2 separate regions of the Homo sapiens genome follow, and region 2 is linked to region 1. The links come from fine-mapping of genetic effects on gene expression. A gene starts in region 1. The other region holds a variant in brackets. All regions are shown on one strand. Distances are between the middles of the regions. Region 1 holds the start of STRAP (serine/threonine kinase receptor associated protein). Region 2 overlaps STRAP (serine/threonine kinase receptor associated protein).

Region 1 (8,339 bases):
GATACATTTTGCTGAGAGGCATTAAATAATATTGAACATCATGTTGGGTATTCCTTTATTTAACGAGATCCCCTTTTCTCCTTTTTGTACTATGGTTTAAGTCCTAGAAGGTTGACATTTATGGACCCCATTAAAGGGCTCCCTTGTCTTCTGGGCTCTGGCTGGGTTTGACCAATGGGAAGCATGGGAGATCTAAAAGTAGATATTCATTTCCCCACTTCTTCCCCATGGCTGTGCTGATGATAATTGGGAGCAGTTGTGTTCTTCTACTGATTATTCCAGCTCTCGCCCAGAGCCTTCTCCTGCAACCGTACCTTTCTCAAATAAATCAGGTTCAGATAACTGCTCCCTTTCAGTTTCTCATTCAGATCTATGGTTAGTGCCCTATTTTCTCCTTGTTGTTTACTTTTGATCCTGGCCACACTTCTGTAACTAATCCCTTCATTACACTGCTCTCAACTTCTACATTTCAGCGTGCCAGTTTTTTTTCTGCTGGGGAGTACACTTTGTTTTTTTATTCCTATGTACTTTATAATTCTTGATGCTATTTAACATGGCATATTTTAAAATTACATTTTTTGTTGTTGCTAATGTATAGAAATGTGATTTCTTCATTACACTTAAAACAACAACAACAACAACAACAAAACCCAGTAACCTAGGCATCGCACCCAGCCTGGGTAACATAGTGAGACTTCATCTCTTCTAAAAAAAGAAAAAAACAACTTCAGTAACCTTTCTAAATTCTCTCATTAATTCCAATAATTTTTATTTTTATTTTTTTCTTTTGAGACATGGTCTTACCTCATTGTCCAGGCTGCAGTGCAGTGGCAGAAATTGGGCTTATTGCAGCCATGAACTTCTGGGCTCAAGCGATCCTCCTGCCTCAGTGTCCCGTGTAGCTGGGATCACAGTAGTGTACCACCATGCCTGGCTAATTTTTTTATTTTTTTGTAGAGCCTGGGTCTCACTTTGTTGCCCAGACTGGTCTTGAACTCCTGGGCTGGAGTGATCCTCCCATCTCAGCCACCCAAAGTACTGGGAACTGGAATTACAGGCATGAGCCACCACACCTTGCCTCTTTTCTTTGTATATAACCTCTAAAACAATTTCTAATCACAGATTTACAACTTTCTTTGGAAGATTTATGCATTTTTAAGTTACCTGAACATCTAGTACGATGCTGTATTGAAGAGGCAGTAGCAATCATCTGTCTCGTACCTAATCTAATACAGAATGCTTTCTGTATTTCACCATTAGGTGTGGGGTTTCAGATATTCTATGAGGTTAAAAAAGTCCCTTCTATTTCTAGTGTCTCAGAATTCTTATAAGTGAAAGAATGCTGAATTCTATCAAAAACTTCTTACACATCTTTTGATATGATTTTCTTTAATCTTTTAATATTGTTAATTATATCAATTACATTAACCTGTCTTCTAATATTAAATTGACCTTGAAGCCTACCCAATTGGTCATAATACACAATACTCTTAGAACTCAGAATCCAAATGAGCAGGAAATAATACATTCTTTAGAGCCAAGTATGTACCATAACTTACCAATTATATTCTTATCTACACACAATGAGCAATAAATGAACATGTATCAGTATCTGACCAGTTGTGTCATTTTGAGTGGGTCTTTTATTTACCTCCATCAGTAATGCAACAATCTATTTAATCAGTAAACAGTCATGCTGAGTATTCACTAAATGCCATTCACTTTTCTGGCACTAGAGTACAAATGACAAAGCCATAACCATTGCCATTAAGGAGTTCATAAATGTGTGAGTGGTGCGTATGTGTGAGACAAAAGGGAGAGGATGGCACAAAGGAGGAGTCGAACAAGATAAAATGAAAAACATATATAGTAAGTGCTTTACCGTAAGTGAATGAACGAGAGTACTAAGGAAAAAGAATGGAGACGTATTTCAAGTTCTCACGTTGTTTGACTCGAATCTTGTAGACGGTGTTTGCTGCAAAAAGATGAAGAAAACATTCACAGACATTTATGTTGATTACATATTTATTGCTATGTGCCCAGACGTTTTGACCTTGGGGATAAAGTAGCAAAGAAAACACAAAAATCTCTGTTGTATTGGGTTTACATTCTATCAATAAAGATACAACTTGCCCAGAGAAAAGCCCTCTCCTGGTTAGGAAACAGTATCAACAATTAACAGCTCTGGTGGTTTCACAGAGCCACAGTGGGCTGCCTGCTGCAGACAATATCAGAGTTTGTTTATATTTAAATATTATTTTAATATTTCTATTTTTGTCCATGTATTATAATGCACATCTATGTAATTTGCAAATCATCACTCATATATACATCATATCAAAAGGTGTAAAAGTTTTTGATAGAATTCAGCATTCATTCGCTTATAAAATGAGTGAAGGCTCACTTTACGGATGAGAGTATTTCATCAAAAAAATTGGGGATCTACGACTCTAGAGTTCTCCGAAGTCCACCAAGGAAAAAGTAACTTGAATTTAATCGCATTTAAAACTATATAGTATCCACTCCTAAAACATTAGCAACATAGGAAAACTTACACAGCGGAAGAAATGACTGGGGATTTTTTTTTTTTTTTTAATACATGGTCTCGCTCTGTTGCCCAGGCTGGAGTGCGGTGGCGCGAGCACCGCTTACTGCGGTGTCGACCTCTCGGGCTCGAGTTATCCTCCCACCTCAGCCTTCCAAGTAGGTGGGACCACAGGCACCACCACTCCAAGCCCGTATATGGTTTTTAAATAAGACAAATTGCAAAAAACGTTGCCAGACAGCGTTCGCTGGTTTGGGCCGTCACTGGGTATGGCTCGTGTCCGTCTAGATATTCAGAGGCCGAGCACAGTCCTCAGTAGGGCTGCTCGGCAGGTACACAGCTGACGCTGGTCCTTGGACTTATGGGAGTGGGAACAACTTTCAACTCGGCCGCGGACCAGGAAGGCGTTCTGACCCGCTAGAGCTCGGGGACAGGGACCCCATCCCGGTGCCTAGAGCGTCTCCCTTAGTCGGCGTGGGCCAGCGCCAGTTACCTCACGAGCACTGAACTAGCGCCTGCGCCCTTCTATACTTCTCGCTCTTTCTTCAAGTCACTTCTACCCGGCGAGCCCGCCCTCCCGCCAATCGTCATTTCCGGCGGGTGCTCTGCGTCATTTACGTCGTCACTTCCTGCCGATGCCGGTGTGGACGCTGTGAATCGTGGCTGGCCCGGTTCTCCGCTTCTCCCCATCCCCTACTTTCCTCCCTCCCTCCCTTTCCCTCCCTCGTCGACTGTTGCTTGCTGGTCGCAGACTCCCTGACCCCTCCCTCACCCCTCCCTAACCTCGGTGCCACCGGATTGCCCTTCTTTTCCTGTTGCCCAGCCCAGCCCTAGTGTCAGGGCGGGGGCCTGGAGCAGCCCGAGGCACTGCAGCAGAAGAGAGAAAAGACAACGACGACCCTCAGCTCGCCAGTCCGGTCGCTGGCTTCGCCGCCGCCATGGCAATGAGACAGACGCCGCTCACCTGCTCTGGCCACACGCGACCCGTGGTTGATTTGGCCTTCAGTGGCATCACGCCTTATGGGTATTTCTTAATCAGCGCTTGCAAAGGTGAGCAAGGCCGCAATCCTGGTCCTCGACGGCTGGGACTGGGCTGAAAGGGATCGGGACCCGCACGCTCCAGTGCCGAAGCGGTGGTGTGGTGAGGGGGGAGGGGGCGATATTAACATCTGAGATGAGAGCCAACACTGGTCCGGTGGAGAAAGGAGTGTGTTAGGGAATCCGCAGCTGGAGCCGAGAGGACGCTTTTGTAGAAACTATTACCTCCAACTAAGACCTCTCTCCTTATTTTATTTTTATTGCTATTTTTGAAGGAGCTGGTCAGCATTTGCCTAGACTCTCGGGACAACACGGTAAATAGCTTTCAAGGATTTGGGGAAAGGAGAAATTAGGCCAGGCCGTGCAATACCTTACAAAGACGTTCGCTCTTGTCTCACTGGATATTCCTTTGTGGTATTAGCCTCATTTTTCAAATGGGAAACTGAGATTCAGGCTAAGATGTCTGTCCAAAATAAGACTAAAATCTAGATTGTTTTGACGCAGATCAGTATTCCCAGCCAATTACAGATGCTTTTCAGAGAGAATGATCTGTTCAGCTCTTCAGTTAATTTATTACTGCACATTCCTTAGTGCCTTCAGTGGGTGGTGGTAGTTAAATAGCTGAAACAATTTTTCCACTTTGTCATTGAACATCATTGTATATTTACATTTGAATCTTAGACTTTAAGTAATCTGAACTTATAAATTACATGTTTTAAAAAATATTTTCTAGATGGTAAACCTATGCTACGCCAGGGAGATACAGGAGACTGGATTGGAACATTTTTGGGTCATAAAGGTGCTGTTTGGGGTGCAACACTGAATAAGGATGCCACCAAAGCAGCTACAGCAGCTGCAGATTTCACAGCGTAAGTGTAGCCAAGATGGCTAACTTTGGTGTTCTCTGTAGCTTGTGTCCTGAAATAATCAAAAACTTCAGTGTCAGATATTCATAAAATTCTGACTCACTGGCTGCCATACAGAACGCATGTTTGATCCCACCAAAATTCCATCGTGGTCCATCGTGGTCCTGTGTGCTTCTTTGTCTTCAGTGGTTCTCAAAATTTTCAGAGGCCTAAATGACTTATTCCGTATATTTTGATTGAGACTCAGGAATCTGCATTAACAAACGCACCAGATAATGAATGTTGATCTCCTTTACGAATGCTGCTCTGTGTGTACTCCTTAGTGATATCCTACATTGATGGCCCTAGGTTTTTATTTCAATCCCGGTTTTTGTTAACTGGCTTTAGGCATCATTAAAACTCATTGTGTCAAAAACAAACAAACAAAAAAACAACAAAAAAACAAAACTCAGCTGCTCGTCATTTCCTAAGTTTTTAAAGGTTGAAATCTAAAGCATTCTTGATTTTCCCTTATATCTAGATTATCATCATCTTTTTTGATTCTGCCAGCGGGATGTCTCCTGACTCCAATGTTCCTTCATGTAGTAACTGTGGCTGCCTTAGTTCAGGATCATTTTTAACTTTCAGTAGTTTCTTTTCCTCCTATTCATTTTCCATATTGTTGCCAGTTGTCTTCCTAAAAACATACTTGATCATGTCACTTCTCTACTAATGATCTTCCTGTCTTCCCTTTGCCATTTTAGTAGTTCATGACCTTTGATGTACATTAGAATATCTGGAGAGCTTTTCAAATATTCAAATGGTATGAGTCCCAGAAATTCGGATTTTTAAAACTTTTTTTTTTTTTTACTTTTTTACTATATATTTATATTTTATACTTTTTACTACATTTAAAAATATTTTTTAATACTTTTTACTATACAGACAGTATCTAGCTATGTTGTCCAGGCTGTCTTAAACTCTTGGCCTCCATGCCTCAGCCTCTCAAAGAGCTGGGGTTACGGGGGTGAACTACTGTGCCTGGTACAGAAATTCTGGTTTGATTGGTCTGGGGATGGAGTACTGGTCATACTGATTATTGGTGTTTTTTTATTTTTCTTTCTTCCTTTTCTTTCCTGATGTGCAGTCATAGAATTGCTGACCTAAAGGACACATTTCAATTGTTGGCCCTTTACAGTTTGCTTCATCCTAGTTCATCAGCATCATCCTCTGCCATTGCACACCATAAACCTACAATCTAATTATACTAATCTTATTGTTGCCAGAATATACCTTACCTGTTCTGACTTTTGGCGGTTAATTATGTTATTAAACTGACTTGCAGTGGCCCTCGTTGCCTTTTTGGGAATGTATCATATTTTATAAATCTTGTTATCTCCAGTTCCTACTTGGTATTTGTAACTTAGGAATTTGACACTTCATTGTTTAAACTGATGAAGGCAATATCAAGAACTGTTGTGCATACACAGATTTATTAGACTTAAGAGGCTAGAGAGTACAAGTGGTGTTTTTTTTTTTTTTTTTTTTTTTTTAAAGACAGAGTCTTGCTATGTCCCCAAGGCTGGAGTGCGGTGGCACAGTCTCGGCTCACTGCAACCTCCACCTCCCGGGTTCAAGTGATTCTCCCACCTCAGCTTCCTGAGAGGCTGGGACTACAGGTGCACGCCACCACGCCTGGCTAATTTTTGTATATTTAGTAGAGACGGGGTTTCGCCATGTTGGCCAGGCCGGTCTCGAACTCCTGACCTCAAGTGATCTGCCCGCCTTGGCCTCCCAAAGTGCTGGGATTACAGGTGTGAGCCACCGTGCCTGGCCTTTTTTTTTTTTTTTTTTAACAACCTCACACTAAGGAGCAATTGTAAATCTGCTGCCTCCTTCATTTTAAGTACATTAAACATACCAATTTTAGAATGAAAAAATGAAGGCTGATTGACTGTGGTGGCAGATACGTGACTGTATGCTCTTGTTTATTGAAACAGTGTTGTTTTTATGCTTTCTTAACATTTCAAGTCTCAATGTCTGTGTTTACAAGTGGTGTATTAAGAGCATGAAGGCTGGAGCCAGATGACCTGAATTTGAATTGGTGGCCTCATGCACTTTATTTAACCATTTTTTTTTCTGTCATGGTACCTAATTCATAGGTTGGTTTTGAATATTAAATAAGTTAATATGTTTCGAATACTTACAACATTGCCTGAAGTCTATTACACCTATGAAAGTGTTACATATGTAAAGTAACGATGATAGCTACCATGTAAACTATCACCACCCGCACTTGATCAAAATCACATATTATTTTGAAACTAATATGGCTAAAGCCTTCAAACTATTTGGCCTCATATAAGGAAGATTGAATAGATTTAAATGTCAAGAAGGAAGATTTTTGTGATTTTTTTTTCCCCCTCCTCAGTTAAGGCTTTAGGTGCTGTGTTAGAGTGGAAAATAATAACAAGCATTGGCACTAGGTGGGCTTGCATTCGTGTGCTAACTATGCTGTGTATTTCCAGTTTGATCATCATAGGATTTTTTTTTTTTTTTGAAACAGGGTCTTAGGTGCCTAGGCTAGAGTGCAGTGGCGTGATCATAGCTCACTGCAGCCTCTATCTCCCAGTCTCAAGCAGTTCTCCAACCTCAGCCTCCTGAATAGTGACCACAGGCGTGTACTACCATGCTTGGCTAATCTTTGTGTTTTTTGTAGAGATGGGCTTCACCATGTTGTCCAGGTTGGTCTTGAACTCTTGGGCTCAAGCGATCTGCCCACCATGGCAGGATGTTTCTTAAATGTCGGCTTTCATATCTGTAAAATGGGACTAAGACCCATGAGATTATTGGAGGAACAGAGAGATCTTTCTCCACCATATATCCCTGAAGTCCAATATGATCTCTGTCACATAGTAGGTGCTCAATAAATGCTAGTTGAGATTTATCCCTCATTTCCTCTATGTCTTGTCTGTGGGGTGTAGGAGCGTGTTTTCATGTGCGTGTTTGTGTGTGTGTGTATTCTCTCCAAGAAGTTACTCCCCACAGCCTACCTGATTAGTCATGGTTGGTATAAAGCATTTTTAGAAACAATTTTTTTTTCCCTCCATTCTTACGTTTCTTGGAAAACTCATTTATGGTGTGGTCATTTAGAAGTGGAATTTGGTCCCGTTTCTTGTGGAGAAATTTAGCAGAATAGGTCTGTGGACTAGTGTAGAATGTTATCTTGGAGTAATTCGGGCAATTGAGTCCAGTGTTGAGTACAGTGTCCCTAAAACACCATCTCTTTGTATCTATTTGGGAAGAGTGCCAAAGTAAAGACAATTCTGTGCTGTGCTCCCAAGAGGGCTTAAGTAGATCTGGGATTGGGTCCAGGAATTTATAGGTAATCACAATGTATCACTCTTTCTTTCTTGTAAAGCCAATAGAAATATCTAATTTTAGTTTTAATAAGGTTCTTGATAAATCGAAAATGGTATTATCTCCTAGATGACTTGGTCAACATGTTAAGGTATTTGGGCAATTTTTTAAAAATCTTAAACTGGCCTGTTTTGTTGAAGGTTTAAATAAGTAAGTTAAGCAGCTCCTATTATGAGACTTACGGTAAGTTCATTCTGAGGATATGGAAAGTATCAGGCAGCATTATTATTTGCAAGAAACTGGGGTATAAGAGGTAACAGTAGTTTAAGGAGATGACAAGTACTTCGTGGGATGTGAAGAAAATGTTGGAGGGTTAGCTGCTGAAAGGGTATTGTTAATAGCGCTTTACTGTCTTGATTTGAGCCCTGTGGCCAACTAATATATGTCAATTTCTTGCCTGGAGATTGAATAATACATTAGGAAACATTTAGATTAGATCCATTTTAGGGCTCTTACTGTGAATAATGGAAATCTGCCAGAGTTAGTACATG
Region 2 (8,339 bases), 20 kb after region 1:
GCTTTACCAAAGAACGAAGCTTGCTAGATTACACCCAAAGAACAAAAGACAATTTTACGTTTTGTTTCTTGGGGAACATTGATGCATCTGGGTTGCACAAATGGAACCTTGGTGATGGACCATGTAGAATCTATTTTAATTGCTTATGGTTCAGTTTTTATTACTTGAATACAAGTGATTTATAAATAAGATATTCTTTTCTGTTACTTTTATTTAATGCTAGTTTTCAAAGTTTTAGAATGTTTTTGGTTTCATATTTTATTCTTTTTCAAGATTGAGAGAACTGAATTATTTGCCCAAGATCTGAAGTCACAGTGAATACCAGATCTGCCTAGCCTTTCTCTTTCCAAAACCTTGTGTTCTTTGTACTCTTACAACTTTTCTATTCTCTGGTGGGACACAGATGGGAGACAGAATAGGAACATTGGTCTAGTAAAGGGCTTTGAGAACTAATAAGGTGATGAGGCATTAGAAAGTAAATGAGAAAGGTTCATACTTAAAGGTACTACTTGAATATAACAGTGCTCCTAATCTATACATTTTCTCATTAGGTTCCATGGATTAAAATATTTATGGATCATTGTTGATCTATATCTCACCTTTCTGTGTGACAGAATAATTAGTGGACTGTAGGAAATTAAGAGGCAAAGTGTGTAAAAGAGCTCCACCTGGTGGCTCTCTATAGTCATAATAAAAATTGATTCCCTGAGAAATAGGCAGTGAGTTTTAGGATATGGAAATTGGAGGTTGAACTGGTAAGACTTTAAATCTACTTTCTATAGAATTAATGGGGTTTTCATTTACCTCTTTTTCTCCATCCTTAATGAGACATGAAGCCTCATTTGCTTTTTTTAGAGGGACAGTTTGAAACTAGAATGTGTGCTAGATTTGGAAAGGAATAATCTTACAGAGAAAGGGTCAATGATATACCACTTTTGTGATGAGAAATTAATTAAGTACAGGTTTTAATGTTTGCCTTAAGAATTTTCCATCTCCCCAGTAACACAGACAGTATTTTTTTTTTTTAGCATATCAATATTTAACCTAATAGTTAAAATTATCTAATAGCCCTCTTCTTTTTCAGAATCCTACAAGGGACACTTTGGTCCTATTCACTGTGTGAGATTTAGTCCTGATGGAGAACTCTATGCCAGTGGTTCAGAAGATGGAACATTGAGACTATGGCAAACTGTGGTAGGAAAAACGTATGGCCTTTGGAAATGTGTGCTTCCTGGTAAGAATTTTTATTCAGAATAATAAAATTTTTAAAATGCATGATTTTATGTCATTTTTAATCATTAATTTTATTTCAGGGTTCCTGTTTTCTATAAATTTTAAATTATATATTATGGTTTAAGCAGCGAGAAGCCCAGGATTATAAATTGGCCAGAGAAAGGGTCATGTTCCTTTGTTTAAATTTTTTTTGGTATGGCTGGGCACGGTGGCTCACGCCTGTAATCCCAGCACTTTGGGAGGCTGAGGCGGGCGGATCACAGGGTCAGGAGTTCGAGACCAGCCTGGCCAACATGGTGAAACCCCATCTCTACTAAAAATACAAAAATTAGCCAGGTGTGGTGGTACATGCCTGTAATCCCAGCTACTCAGGAGGCTGAGGCACGAGAATTGCATGAACCCAGGAGCCATGCATTGAGCTGAGATCACGCCACTGCACTCCAGCCTGGGCAAGAGTGACTCAGTCTCAAAAAAAAAAAAAAGAAAAATTTGTTGTACAATCTAGTCTGTTCCTAAATTTTTATACTAGCACATTTTGTGGCTGGAATAGATCTAATTCAAAATTTGCTGGAAGGCAATATAAAGAATTTACAAGTAAATGTATCTAATCTCTGAATAGTATTACTCACTGATCCACACCAATAAAGATAGACATGTTCTTAATAAAAAATACCTAGTTACTAATCCCTAAGTAGTTGCAGTATGAACCTAAAAGTAATTTTAAAGAAAGACATACTATTTTTAGAATCACAGTTATTTAAAAAGGAGTTGTTTTTATTATATTTTGTAGCCATTTTCCTGGAATAGTCTTATGTTGCTCTTCTTGCTTATTGAACACTGGAAATTACTTTAATAGTGTAAGTCATATAATCGTCATTGCTTTTCTTTTTACAGAAGAAGATAGTGGTGAGCTGGCAAAGCCAAAGATTGGTTTTCCAGAGACAACAGAAGAGGAGCTAGGTAAATGCTATGGAATTGACTTTTGTAAGAGTCTTGGGGGATTTAAAATTGAACTGTAACAGAAGTTTTACTCATTGGCAGAAGAAATTTATTAAATATGAACATATTTAAATAATGGAAACTTTAAATATTTATGCATGTATATATACATATTTATAAGCTAAATATTTAAATACCTACTGCATAGTAGTAATAGGCACAGAGATGTAGTATGGACACAACCGATGTGGTTACTCTTTCAGAGCTAGAGTCTAACTTAGGAGACATGCCAAAACACAAATTATTGTAAGGGGGATTAAAAAAAGCTTCCTAGAGAAGTGACATTTAAACTGGGAACTAAGGATGAGCAGAAATGATTTAGGTGAGGTCATGAGAGGGGGTGTTGGTAGGGACAGGATGGAAAAGTTCATAGCAGGAAAACTATGTTAACTAAAAGTTCAGAACCAAAAAGGAGCATAGCATATGAGGAACTAAAAGAACTTCTCCATGCCTCCAGGTTAAAGAGCAAAGGCAAAGTGAAGCTGGAGAAGCTAGATCATCTGAGGGCCTCATTTGCTGTATTAGGACTTGGAGAGTTTTATACTAAGAGCAATGAGAAACCTTTGAATTTTAAGAAGAGGACTTTAAAAGATTGCCTTGGTAGTTCAAGACCAACCTGGCCAACATGGTGAAACCCTGTCTCTACTAAAAATACAAAAATTAGCCGGTCATGGTGGCAGATACCTGTAATCCCAGCTATTTAGGAGGCTGAAGCAGGAGAGTAGCTTGAACCCAGGAGGTAGAGGTTGCAGCGAGCCGAGATTGCGCCACTGCACTCCAGCTTGGGTGTCAGAGAGAGACTCTGTCTCAAAAAAAAAAAAAAAAAAAAGGTTGCCTTGGCTGTTGCACGTACAAAGAATTGGACTGGGAACAAGAGTGAACATAAACCAGTTAGGGGGCATTGTAGTCTAGATGAGTGATCATGTAGGTTTTGTTTTGTTTTGAGATGGAGTCTTGCTCTGTTGCCCAGGCTGGAGTGCAGTGGCATGATCTCGACTCACTGCAGCCTCCGCCTCTGGTTTCAAGCAATTCTCCTGCGTAAGCCTCCTGGGTAGTTGGGATTACAGGTGCACCACCACGCCTGGCTAATTTTTGTATTTTTAGTAGAGATGGGGTTTCACCATGTTGATCAGGCTGGTCTTGAACTCCTGACCTCATGATCTGCCCACCTCGGCCTCCCAAAGTGCTGGGATTACAGGCGTGAGCCACTGCACCCGGCCTATCATGTAGTTTTTAATAAGGGTATTGCAATGAGAACAGAAAAAGGTAGATGGAGTTGAGAGTCTTTTGTTAGACTTGTTAGAATTGTGAGATTGATGAGTGGGGGTATCATGAGGAAGAAATATGCAGATTGCTGCCATGAGAAACTGGGTATGATGATTTTGGGGGAGGTTGGGAAGGTGTTTACCATTTACCCAATAGAGTTTTCCTTAAATTTTTTATTGTTAAGCACCTTCTTGCTAAAACAATGTTGATGGTTAATGTTTTGCTTTAAATAGCACTAAATATTAGGATTTGAATCACTAAAAGAGAGGGCCAGATCCTTCGAAGACATGACTTTAATTCCGGGTTTGTTATATAGCTGGAGTCTTTGAAAATTTAGGCCAGAAAGGGACCCTTGGAGGTTGAGTTATGGTGTAAGAGAATCTAGTGGATAAAACACATGAACTCTTTCTTCTTTGCCTTTTCAATGACATGAGTCTAGTTGTTAGTGGCATGTGCAGTTGCTCTCTTCTTTCCCTTACCACAGTATGCTTTACAAACACTTTTTCATTCCTTCATTACACAGAAATGTAGATTTGCTTCTTTCTTTCATTAAGTTGACTAATGTGACTTTTTTTTTTTTTTTTTTTTTTTACTTATAGAAGAAATTGCTTCAGAGAATTCAGATTGCATCTTTCCTTCAGCTCCTGATGTTAAGGCCTGAGCGTCAATCATATGTGCAGTTAGTATACAACTGACTAAAACAAGCAAGCAGAGAAAAGCATCAGCCTTCCAGAGTTACTGTCTGCTTAAGGCAGAAACAGCAGTAAATAATGAGGAAAATGAATTAGCTCCAGTGCTGGAACAACTAACTAACTTGGTGTTACCTGTAAGTGAAAACTCAAGTGTCAGATGAAGGGAGGTGGAGTTATCCTCTTATAGTACAGTGGCCTGTTATCTTTTTAATGAATATATACAAGCCAACATCCAATTTCTATTATTACAATTAGGGTTCTTGTAGCTGTTTATGTTAATATGGAGAAGAAAACTATATT[G/A]GCTGATTTTTTCTGATCTTAAAGCAGAATGCCTTTTCTTTTTTTGCTTCAGTTGTAAAGAAGAGGGAATACATGATAAAGTAACTGGTTTGATTTCTCGTTCATTGTACACTGCCTCTGAACATCTAATTGTTTTTAGTTGTCTAAATAAAATGCCTCTAAAACAAAACAATGTTTGGTTTTTTTGGGGAAAAACTACTAATGTGAGTTTTATAAGTGGAAATAGCCAGAAGGTTTTTCTGTATCATAACCATAGCAAAAGGTAAGCCAATTAATCTGTAGTAAACATTATTTTATAATATTGAGATTCAGTTACTTGTCCTGAATTTTTGAAATTCTTATGTCCTTTACTAGTGTTTCATTTACCTTCTCTATTCCCAGATTGGATAGAAGTGCTTGACATGCCTTTTTAAACAATTATTTAAATAATACATGCTAGTTATAAGAAAAAAAAAATCAACTGAAATTTAGCAGTAAGCTGAAAGATCACTTAAAATCCTACCACTCCTCAAAAAACTATTAAAATCAAATGACCATGAATGCATGTTAGGGCATCTCTGTATGTATATACAGATAGATAGAATGGATTTTATAAAAATGGGATTACTATAGTCCTGCAGTGGTTTAAGAAGTATGGAATTTTACCTCATTCTTTAAATTTGGGTGGCATTCAGAAAGCCCTTCTAAAACCTTCTAATAAATTGGATCAGCTGAGTTTAGACTTGTAATTTATTTTTTAAAACAAAGAGGGCATATTAAATGAGTAATTTGGAAATACTTCAGATGAATAAATAACATCTCTGCAACTTCCTTTTTCTCCTGATCAGTCCTGTGAGTGACCCTTGATAACTTTTCTTAAAAGCAATATGAGTCAACCAAAGAATAAGATTAATTTTTGAGGATTTGTGATAACCAGAAGAAAGCACTGTAGGCTGTGACAACCTGTGAGGGCCGAGAGAAATACAGGGGAGCCAACTGGTGATCCATATTGGCTTTCATAGAGTGGTAGTATTTTTGTGTCAGCTTGTTACATGCCTGAACCTCTGGATTGCAGCAGTGTTGTCATTGTACCAGCAGTTGCTCAGACTCTAATCAGAGTCTGATTTACCCTCAATAAAGTTCTGTACGCATCAGATTGGAATCATGAAGTTGCTTGTTATTTATGAACCAAGGGAATTTCTCCTTAGGTTTCATAAAAGTCTAATGACCCTGTACAGGTACAGTCCTTTGTGTATTGGTTTCCTGCTGCTGCTGTAACAAGTGACCACAAATGTGTACCTTAAGACAACACAAATTTATTATCTTACGGTTAGGGAGGTCAGAAGTCCACAGTAGGTCTTGCTGGGCTTAAATTAAGGTGTCAGCAGAGCTGCAAGCCTTCTAGAGGCTCTACAGGACAATCTGTTCCCTTGCCTTTTCTAGCTTCTAGAAGCCAGCTGCATTCCCTGGCTCATGGTTCCTTCCTCTTTCTTTACGTCCAGCAGTGTCCGTTTTTTAATCTCTTATTCTGAATGTGACTCTATCTCCTGCTGCCTTCTTTTATTTATAAGGAGGTTTGTAATTATATCGGGCTCACCTGAATAATCCAGGATAATCTTTCCAATTCAAGATCTTCAATTTAATCACATCTGCAAAAGTCCCTTTTGCCATATAGGATGACATATTCACAGGTTCTGGGGATTGGGAAGTAGACATCTTTGTGGGGGCCATTAGTTATTAGTCTGCTTACCACACTTGGTAATGGTAGAATCCTACAGTAGAATTTAACAAAACTTTCAAGAGTAGTGGTCACTTTTCTGTTCTCATCTTAACTAAACCTTCAGCAGCATTCAATAATCATCCACTTCCTGGTTTTTGATTTTTTTTTTTAGCTTCTATGAAACTACACTCCTGGGTCTTTTTTTTTTTTTTTTTGAGATGGAGTCTCGCTCTGTCACCCAGGCTGGAGTGCAATGGTGCGATCTCAGCTTACTGCAACCTCTGCCTCCCAGGTTCAAGCGATTCTCCTGCCTCAGCCTCCTGAGTAGCTGGGACTACAGGCATACACCACCACGCCCAGCTAATTTTTGTATTTTTAGTAGAGACGGGGTTTTGCCATGTTGGCCAGGATGGTCTTGATCTCCTGACCTCGTGATCCACCCGCCTCGGCTTCCCGAAGTGCTGGGATTACAGATGTGAGCCACCGTGCCCGGCAGGGTCTTTTTATACCTTACTGACTCTTGTATTTGCCAGTTCCTCCTTTTTTTTCTTGACTTCAGATCTGGGCTGCACTTTCTAGCTCTGTTGTCTAAAGAAAAATATCTGCTGTTACTCAAGATCTTCTGATAGGTTCTACATCGTTGTTTATATGTTGTCTACCTGGTCTGCCTCTTTGAGCACCAGAGTTTGACAGCATAGTTGAGTGCTCCATCTTAACCTTTCATAAGACTCAGACTTACCTATCGTAAGTCTTGATTTTTTAAATCAAACCTGTTTCCCTCAACCTTTCCCCATTCCACTAACTGGTACTAACTTATACTTACTTGTTCAAACTAAAAGACATGTAAATCCTTGACTGTGTTCTCTCTCATGCCCATGTCTATATGCAAGTCCTGTGGGCTCTTCGAAGCTGTGCTTTGCCTCCTCTCCATTGTTACCACCCTAGGCAGGCTACCTTTATTTCTCAGTTCCTTCATAACTGCTCCCTCTTGCCCCTACTCATTCGTCTGGCTCTTATCCCATCCATACTCCATACAGTAGGAAAGGTAATTGCTTTAGGATTTGAAGAGATGAGGTGATTTCCTTGTTAAGATCTGTAATGGCTTCCCATTATATGAAATTCTTATGATTAGTTGGCTCTTGATACCTTTTGTGACTTTTTCATATTTCCCTTGCTTGCCCTGCTCTAGCCACAGTGGCCTCATTTCTGTCTCAAGTCCTTTTCACTTGATATTTCTGCTACTTGGTTCACTCTTACCTAATGTTTTGCTTGGCTGGATCCTTTCTTTGCATTCAGTTCTCCAGCTGGTCTGTATTCCATCTCTTGTCACTTCTTACTGAGTCCTATTTTATTCATACTTGTTAACGCTATTTGAAATTTTGTTGCATGTTTTTCAGCTTCATTGATAGTCTCCCTTTACCTGGAAAGGTGACTGGTATGTTGTGAGTGCTCAATAGTTGTTGAAACAAGTCCCTCACCAAATCTTTTTAATCTCTCCCAGTAATCCATGTCAGACCAGGAAGACTGTTTTCCAGTTATCTCATATGTAGCAGGCCATCCTCCACTGAAGAGTGAGACATGGCAGGCATGGCAGACATGGCAAGACAAAGCTCTTACCTCTCCAGTGAACCCGTGTACAGCTTCAGCCGGTGTGAGACTGAAGTTACCCAGGAAGAATCCAGCTTTCACTTGCCTTCTCATCCAATTCATCCCCTGGAGTCTCCTCTCTAGGTCCTAATTTCCAGTAGGTCATGGTATCCCAAGTTCCCACCTAATATTAGTAATTTACCTTTTTATGAATCAATTACTTCTCTATTTTAGTGTCATCCAGAGTTTTCTTCCAGGAAGCCAGGATTGAGTGTGGTCATTCAATTCTCTTCAGAATATTTTTCATGTCAGTAAAGTTCAACACATTCTTTATAACGTCTACAAAATAGCATAGATGCACCAAATAGCATATAGATGCACCATAATTTATAACAAATTATAGATTACATTTTTTAGTAGTTGCTCAAATTCCATGGAAGTATTTAGCTGCCTTTTCTTTGAGACCAAGGTTGGGGAAAAATGGATGCAATTTTTCAGAAGGGAGCAACAACAAGATGCATTGAAAAAGCAGACCAATGGAAAATATTTCTCAACTAGCTACC

What was found. PIP is the estimated chance that this variant, and not a neighbour inherited with it, causes the effect.
Region 2: its variant is fine-mapped to the expression of STRAP in whole blood (INTERVAL, PIP above 0.99).

The regions. Positions count from the first base shown.
Region 1 is chr12:15,879,225-15,887,563 of GRCh38, forward strand. STRAP (serine/threonine kinase receptor associated protein) reads left to right here and starts at 3,163. Exons shown (of 10, transcript NM_007178.4): 1 at 3,163-3,595; 2 at 4,317-4,452. The coding sequence starts at 3,484. It overlaps LOC102724146 (a long non-coding RNA gene), which reads right to left and starts at 3,074. Exons shown (of 6, transcript XR_007063230.1): 1 at 2,556-3,074; 2 at 1,883-1,975. RefSeq lists a silencer at 171-465 and enhancers at 2,581-2,810, 3,121-3,240.
Region 2 is chr12:15,898,820-15,907,158 of GRCh38, forward strand. It overlaps STRAP (serine/threonine kinase receptor associated protein), which reads left to right. Exons shown (of 10, transcript NM_007178.4): 8 at 1,085-1,234; 9 at 2,128-2,193; 10 at 4,098-4,659. The coding sequence ends at 4,159. Among named protein-coding and RNA genes, the nearest start is that of DERA, 8.3 kb to the right of the region's middle. The variant G/A (reference allele first, on the strand shown) is at 4,491.